Linked DNA regions of Homo sapiens: region 1 is linked to region 2. Evidence: fine-mapped expression QTL. A gene starts in region 2. The other region holds a variant in brackets. All regions are shown on one strand. Distances are from middle to middle. Region 1 has its middle 62 kb from the start of TNFSF8. Region 2 holds the start of TNFSF8 (TNF superfamily member 8).

Evidence for each region. PIP is the estimated chance that this variant, and not a neighbour inherited with it, causes the effect. A credible set is the group of variants that fine-mapping cannot tell apart.
Region 1: its variant is the best candidate, but not a certain one, in a credible set for the expression of TNFSF8 in lung (TOPMed, PIP 0.70).

Annotation. Positions count from the first base shown.
Region 1 is chr9:114,866,163-114,870,564 of GRCh38, reverse strand. No RefSeq gene overlaps it. Among named protein-coding and RNA genes, the nearest start is that of TNFSF8, 62 kb to the left of the region's middle. The variant C/T (reference allele first, on the strand shown) is at 2,108.
Region 2 is chr9:114,927,889-114,932,290 of GRCh38, reverse strand. TNFSF8 (TNF superfamily member 8) reads left to right here and starts at 1,700. Exons shown (of 4, transcript NM_001244.4): 1 at 1,700-2,182. The coding sequence starts at 1,988. RefSeq lists an enhancer at 2,047-2,606.

The sequences.
Region 1 (4,402 bases), 62 kb after region 2:
TTGCCTGGGTATCACCAGCTGAGGCTGCAGAACAGCAAAGATTGCTGCCTGTTCTTTCCTCTGGAAGCTTTGTCCCAGAGGGGCACCTGCCAGATGCCAGCCAGAGCTGTCCTCTATGAGGTGCCTGTTGGCCCCTACTGGGAGATGTCTCCCAGTCAGGATACATGGGGGTCGAGGACCCACTTGAGGAGGCAGTCTGACCCTTAGCAGAGCTCAAATGCTGTGCTGGGAGGTTGGCTGCTCTCTTCAAAGCCATCAGGAAGGGATGTTTAAGTCTGCTGAAGCTGCATCCACAGCTGCCTCTACCCCCAGGGGCTCTGTCCCAGGGAGATGGGGGTTTTATCTATAAGTCCCACTGAGGCTGCTGCCTTTTTTTCAGAGACGCCCTGCCCAGAGAGGAGAAATCTAGAGAGGCAGTCTGGCAACAGTGGCCTTCCTGAGCTGCAGTGGGCTCCACCCAGTTCAAACTTCCTGGAGGCTTTGTTTACACTGTGAGGGTAAAACCACCTACTCAAATGTCAGCAATGGTGGATGCCCCTCCCCCAGCCAAGCTCGAGCATCCCAGGTCAATCTCAGACTGCTGCTGTCCTGGCAGCAAGAATTTCAAGCCAGTGGATCTTAGTTTGCTGGGCTCCATAAGGGTGGGACCGGCCAAGCCAGATCACTTGGTTCCCTGGCTTCAGCCCCCTTTGCAGGAGAGTGAATGGTTCTGTCTTGCTGCCATTCCAGGTACCACTGAGGTATGGGGAAAAAAACAAAACAAAACAAAACAAAACAAAACAAAAAACTCCTGCAGCTAGTTCAGTGTCTGCCCAAACGGTTGCCCAATTTTTGTGCTTGAAACCCAGGGCCCTGGTGGCATAGGCACTAGACGGAATCTCCTGGTCTGTGGGTTGTGAAGATAGTGGGAAAAGCACAGTATCTGGGCCAGAGTGCACAGTTCCCCAGGCTCAGTCCCTCATGGCTTCCCTTGGGCAGGGGAGAGAATTCTCCAACCTCTTGCACTTCCCGGGTGAGGCAACACCAACCCTGCTTCAGCTCGCCCTCCGTAGGCTGCACCCACTGTCCAACCAGTCCCAGTGAGATAAACTGGGCACCTCAGTTGGAAATACAGAAATCACCAGCCTTCTGTGTCAATCTCACTGGGAGCTACTGACCAGAGCTGTTCCTATTTGGCCACCTTGCCAGCAATCTCTGCACCAAGTTTTTGAAATATGTTGTGTATTTGACACTTACCTCTCATCTCAATTCACACAAGCCACATTTCAAGTGCTCCATAGCCAGATGTGAATTGTGGCAACAATATTGAACGGCCCACATCAGTAGTATTTTTTCTTTGGAAAAATTATTAGGGCATTGCTAGGCCTAAGATATGATAAAGTTTTGTCCCATGAGCACTTTATCAAAAGTTTATTCTCTACTTTTAGGGTTCAATTTATTTCTATAAAAATATCTTCTAAATTATGTTCACTTTCTCTTTATCTTGGTATCCACTGGATTTGCCAAAGTTCCAAAAAGGTGTAATAAATGTTTCCACTACAATATTGATTCTGTCAAATTTTTCTTATATTTTCTGAAGATTTTACTTCTAATATTTTTGTGCTATGTTCATTGGTGCATAACTATTCATGGCAGTTATATTCCATTATGAGTCACAAATTCTATCATTATACAGCATTTCTTTTTGACCTATTCAACAACTTTTGCCTTGAATTTTACTTTCCTGATATTAACGCTGTGATCTTTCTATATTCTCTTGGGTTGTCTTAGCCAGTATGCCTCTGCCCGATCTTATAATTTCAACTTCCCATGTTTCTTTATTTTAAAGAATTCCATGTCTCTGAATCACTTTACTGAACTCAGTATTTAATCTGTGAGTATAAAGAATCTGACTAAAGAATATTCTCTCGGCCGGGCACTGTGGCTCACTCCTGTAGGAGGCCAAGGCAAGCAAATCACCTGAGGTCAGGAGTTCAAGAACAGCCTGGCCAACATGGTGAAACCCTGTCTCTACTAAAAATACAAAAATTAGCCAGGTGTGGTGGCATGCGCCTGTAATCCCAGCTACTTGGGAGGCTGAGGCAGGAGAATTGCTGGAACATGGGAG[C/T]TGGAGGTTGCAGTAAGCTGAGATCATGCCATTGCACTTCAGCCTGGGCTGACAACAGCAAGCCTCCATCTAAAAAAAAAAAAAAAATCTTCTCTCTTCAACAGTCACAATATAATTGAGTCTTAGAGAACTACAAGTTTACTTAGTGTATATTCCTTTTTAATAACATGAATTCCCTATATATTTATAGCATTCTGTAGCCTGAAAATCACTTTTTTTTTTTTTTTTTTTTTTTTTGAGACGGAGTCTCGCCCTGTCACCCAGGCTGGAGTGCAATGGTGTGATCTCGGCTCACTGCAACCTCCGCCTCCTGGGTTCAAGCAATTCTCCTGCCTCCCTCCCAAGTAGCTGGGATTACAGGCATGTGCCTCCACGCTCAGCTAATTTTTGTATTTTTTGTAGAGACGGGGTTTCACCATGCTGGCCAGGCTAGTCTCGATCTCCTGACCTCGTGATCCACCTGCCTTGGCCTCCCAAAGTGCTGGGATTACAGGCGTGAGCCACCGCGCCCAGCGAGAATCATTTTCTTATCTATTGTCTCCTTAATTTTCACAGCCATCTTTGAAGTAGAAAGGGCAAAGATTGTCATTCATCCTGATTGTGAGCATAAGGTAGTGTAAACTGCTCAAGTATTATATTCGTGGGTATAAATTAGCTCAGGTACTTAAGTGACAAGCCAACAATTCAACGTAAGGAAGGTGGTTCAAGACACCTTCGCAGTTTCGCAGTTTTGGAGAGTGGAGCAACTCCTGGAGTGCTGTAACTTTCTTCTGTTTTTCTAAGTAACGAGATTTGCCCTTTTATTTTAAAATAAAAAAGCACTCATTGATTACACTATATACTAAACTGTGTTAGCCAGTGAGAATACCAAGTTGAATAAGGCATAATCCCTGTTTCATAGCACAGAATAGTTTAATGGTTCTCAAATCTGTCTGATCATCAAAATTGACTAGATTTTTTTTAAATTATGATGCCTTTTGGTCCCCTTCCAAGTACACTCAACGATCTTGGGACTAGAATGCGAAAAATTGTATATTTTAAAACTCCACAGGCCCAGACAGAATTGAGAACACTGACATTCTATTAGGTTGGTGAAAAATTAATTGTGGTTTTCGCCACTGAAAGTAACGGTAAAACCACAATTACTTTTGTACACCCTAATACTAAAACAAAATTTTTAGCATATGTATCAATTTTTATAATATTTTGCTTATATCACTTTATTTAATTCTCATAGCAACACAGTGAAGCAAGATTAGATTATATTCACTTTATAAACGTGAGAATTCAAAAGCAAAGTGGTTTCCCAAATCACAACCAGTGGTTGATAAAGTATAGCCAGGAATTGCAATTCATTTCTCCAAGTCCTATGCTCCTTCCTCTTCACCTCCACTTCATAAAATCAAAGGAAGGAAAGCAGTTCATAGATAAAGAGTAGAAGAGGAAAGCCAGCGGCTGGCTTCTATAGGAGCTCAATGAATTTTTCCATTTAACTAAGCTCCAATGTGTACTACCAATGGAAAAAGGCCGAGATAGGCTGATGTTATAGCTCCCAAGTCCAGAATCCCAGCCCTGGGTTGATGTAAACAGTCAACCAGTTAAACAGTGCTCACCAAATTTCAGACACTATTGGTGTGACATCAAATGTATATATAATCACATGCACACACACACACACACACACACACACACAATTTAGTCCTCACAACAACTTTATGAAGTGGGAACAATTATCAACCCCAATTTATTGTCTAGGTGAGGAAGCTGAGAGACAGAAAAGTTAGTTAACTTGCTCAAAGTCACAAATATAACAAATGTTGGAGACAGGATTTGGGCTTGTACCAGAGACCATGTTTTTAACAATTTCACCATAGAGCCACTTTGTTCCATACTGGATTTCCAGCCTTTGGCTCTGTCTAGAATTAAATTATGACACTTTGTGTCCATAATTTTTCTGCAATTACACCATATTCTCTACAGCCCTAGAATAATTACTAAGCTGGGAAAATCATACCTTGCCACAGCCCCTGGGCATTGCCCTGATTTCAGCACATACTAGGCTGTTTCACACATGTGGACAGGTTCTTGCCTATGTGTGTCATGATGCCTCTGCTCTTCTGCCTCAAGGATTTCTCCAAAACCATGGAAGTCTGCTAAGCCCTAATGCAAGTGCAGCCTGGCAGTTTGAAAATAGTGACATTTGCAGAGTCAAGCCTGACCCAGAGATGGATGGCAGTTGATGGATAAATGCTCCAGGCTCATCGTTCTTCAGAGAGACAGTTCTGAGGCATGGGC
Region 2 (4,402 bases):
ATATCGCCCCCCACTCTATTTAGCCCAAGAAAACAATTTATCTCTTGATGTCTCTTTCGTCTCCAGGATCTATGCTTTTACAGACTCACTGGGAGGAAATATCCAGACCAAATCCTAAAGCCTGATCTAATTTGGGAGATGCTCAGAAGTTTTGGTTCTATGCAAGAACAGCAGTGGTAATAATCCAAGCTTGGCTTTAGACACAGGACGTTTCCTTAGGGGCATCTGGGATCTCTGCTGGCTCAAAGTGATGCGCTGCAGACAAAAAGTGAGCAGAAAGGAAAGGAGGTGCTATGCAGAATGAGCTTCTTCCACGGTGATACCAAATGGAGCTTTCAAAGGCCCACATCTGGAGGCAGCAGCTATGCAGTGATTAACATTTTAAACGGTATTTTGAAATGGAGATCATTAGTAACCACAGATGTGATCTGACTCTGTCCCCCAGGTAATCTGTCTATTGTATCTAAATTCCAGACTTAGCCCAGTAGACAGCTTGGGATGTTTAACAGGAATTGTCCAACACCATCCCCAAATCTATTTTTATTCATGGAGTACTCTGACATCATCTCGCTTGGTCTTCCTGATGACTGTAATGCAGATTGGGAACAGAGAAAGCCATAAAGACTTGTATGATGGCCCAAGGCTAAGAAGGGAAAGGGCTGAGACCACACTTCAGGTTTTAGCTTTCAGGTGCAGTGAAGATTGAATGACTTAGCACGAGCTTTCAGCCAGGCAGGCTGCAAAGTGCACCCAAGTTCTTTCAGTGATCGACACTTGCGACTTAGGTTGAGATAGTTTTCATCCTCCCTGAGCCTCAGTTTTCCCATCTGTAAAAAATAAACATTGCCTGCCTCGGAGGGTGGAGGTGGAAGTGGAATGAAGCCACATGTAACTCCTAGCGCTGTGCCTGAGACAGTAGAGGTTCAATTATAGTAGTCACATACACACACAACACATACATACACAAGACACAACACACCACACACAACACATACATACACACCACACACAACACTTACATACGCACCACACTCGGCATGCATTGCAGATCACAAATGCACACCACACACACACTGCATACATATACCATAGAGAACACACAACACCTACACATACCCCCATACCACAAATACACACACACTACATAGTACACCACGCAGAACACACACAGCCCCCATATTCCACACCACACCATCTCACTGCCAATTCCTTCCCCTCTTCATGAGTTTTACGGCAGGTCCAGGTTCATCTGCCAGTTTAACAGATCCCAAAACTTCTGCAGGAGTGTTTGTTCAAAAGATTGATATTTCCAGATTCCTGCTTTCTGACAGTATCTTTGAACCCCAAATTTCATACTGCCATGAGCCAGTCCCCCTTTGGAGAAATATCTCCATTTGTGTGCCCTTTTTCCCCCAGGGAACCTGCAGCATGTCCCTTTTTCAGCAGTAGCCTATCAAACCGAACCCTTTGGAGTTATTACACTGCAGTCCGAGGGATCCGGCCTCCCTGAGACCCAGCAAGGACTCATTATCTGGGGAGGTCTTCTGAGCCACAGGCCTCGCTGAAAGAAGGTGCAGCTTCTTGAACAGGAAGGCGTTTTGTGGCAGAGTCTAAACGAAACAGAAGTTGCTTTGTGTGTGCGCACGCATGCACACACACACACACACACACACACATACACACACACAGTCGGGGAACCGTCATTTTCCTACGCGCCCTCTGACATCAGCCACCTTCTCTGTAGCTAGTTTCTCTGCACACAACTTAATCCCTGGCAATGAAAAATGAACCTCTCCCCCACCCTTGCTGCCGCCTCTCGCCTCACGCCCCCAGAGAAGAGTTTCTCCACCAGGCAGCAGGTGAAGGTTTTTTTCCAAGTCACATGATTCAGGATTCAGGGGGAGAATCCTTCTTGGAACAGAGATGGGCCCAGAACTGAATCAGATGAAGAGAGATAAGGTGTGATGTGGGGAAGACTATATAAAGAATGGACCCAGGGCTGCAGCAAGCACTCAACGGAATGGCCCCTCCTGGAGACACAGCCATGCATGTGCCGGCGGGCTCCGTGGCCAGCCACCTGGGGACCACGAGCCGCAGCTATTTCTATTTGACCACAGCCACTCTGGCTCTGTGCCTTGTCTTCACGGTGGCCACTATTATGGTGTTGGTCGTTCAGAGGACGGTAAGTGGACTCCTCTTCCTCCCTTTCCTTTTCTTGTTGTTTTCCCGAGAGAAAGAGCCCTGGGAACAAATGATATTCGTTTGTTGGTTAAGAGCACAAAATAAAATTAAATAAATAAACTCTCTCTCTCTATATATATATATATACTATAGTATATACTGTATAACGTAATACACTTATGTTACATAATATATATTATATTATACAGTATATATTATATATATATATATATATGAGAAAGGGAGAAAAGAAAGAGGAACTTAACTCTCTAAAATAATTTGGCTTGTTGAGAAAAATATTGTTAGACCATCATCTTAAAACTTTGCAGATCTGTCTGAGCAAAACAGTGGAGGGGAGCTATTGGCCTTTTAAAGTTAAGATTTAAATCTTAATGAGCCAGAGACCCATATCAAGGAAGGAAGCAATAGAGAAACCTGATAACACATTTGCACAAGTTGTTATCATGTCTTCAAGGACTTCAGACTGGATTCTGAGGTTCTATATCCTAAGTCTGAGTGTCCTGGAGGTTTCTGAGGCCTCACCCATTGCCAAGAGTTTTGTTTTTGCTTTTGTTTTATACAAGGAGCTAAGTTTCAGAGGCCAAGGTCTAGAAGGAAAGGAGGCGAAAGAGAAGACCATGGCTTCTTAGAGCTTTGGACATTTTGGTGTTAAAGCCAGCAAGACAAATCGAAAGCTTCCTCTTAAGCCACAACTTTGAAGAAGTTAGGGCGTCACAAAAAAAAAAAAAAAAGAAACAGCACATAGAAGCAGAAAGTTGAAAGGTTTTTAGCACCTGTTCTCTCTGATGTTCCTCACAATACTAAGCAATCGTTGGGTACACACTGTACAGGGTCAGACTGTCTTCGGAGATTTACTTTGAAGTAAATGGTAAGATTTGTTTCTGAAAACAGAAGAGGAGGAGAAAGAGGAAGCTTCTTCATATTTTAGAAAATTGGTGTTTACAGAGAATCTACCAGTATATATTATATAGAAAATGCTGTAGTAATAGCATATATTGCTCATGAATTTTTTGATGAAGTTGTTAATGGGTAATTTAAGAGCTGCACCCACCCACATGACCTGCCAAAGTGAGAATATTTCTGTTTCTTACTTCATAGTGCCTACTTTTCGTGGTATTATAATCCTGCTGAATTTATTCTGGTTTTTCTTCAGTTTTCTTAGGCCAAGTACTCTATAGCTTATCAATTGCTGGAAAGAACTAGGCTTTAAAAGGCTTTGATATCTATTTCTCAAGTGTCATCAAGCTTTGAAATTAAATGGAAGCTTTGAAGCTCATATCTCTACAAAAGTGAAAAGAAGGAGTTGCAAATATTTGATTTAGATAGTGGAATTCTTAAAACTCATAATTTAATGGCTTATCTACATCTATTAAGTATAATAATCTTGAAAACACTTTAGGACATCTTTTCTTCTGCAGGGGCTCTGCAATTTCTGTAATTCTAATTTGGAGTGAACCAAGGGTATGTCATTTTATAGCAATGGCCAAAGAAAAGAAATTGAAGTGTCCTTTAAGAAGTTCTTTAGTTAAAGGATCCAACTAGAACTGCTGAGAGAGAGAGAGAGATGGTGGAAAAATGGGTGGCGATGGTGATATATAAAGCTAGAGAGAACTTCAGAGCTCATTCATATCCAACTTTTAGTTGAATTGATTTCTTCTATAAAAGAACCAGAGCAGATCTTTCTGCCTCATTTTTGTAAATGTGGAAAATGAGGAGCAGAGAGGGAACAGGGCTTGAACTACGTCACCCTGAGAAAGTGGTAGAGCCAATACTGCTTGATTGCTTGATGCAAGCAGCATCCCCTTTGCCAATACAGACAGCCACAGAAGCACTAAGAAACATTGCACCCACTCTTCTCTTGGGAGCTTTATCTTCTTGTGCATCCACTTCCTTGACTTACCCCTCATGTTTGGATATGAAAAGATTCACTGTGCAATCTGATTGTACAGTGCGGTGTGCTGTGATTTCTTAGACCAGGAAATATCAGTTGCTTCCTTAAAATTAAGGCTTGCCATGTTAATAGTAGCCGTGGTATATAAAGTGTCAAATGCATTGCACATATCATTTTCAATAAATTCCTCAGACCTTAACTGTTGTAAGACCTAACAAGAAAAAAAAAAGCATCATTTTCCCATTAACTTGAGTTATCAGGAAGGGTTTCCTATAGGAAGATGGAATGTAGACTGACTTGAAAACAGGA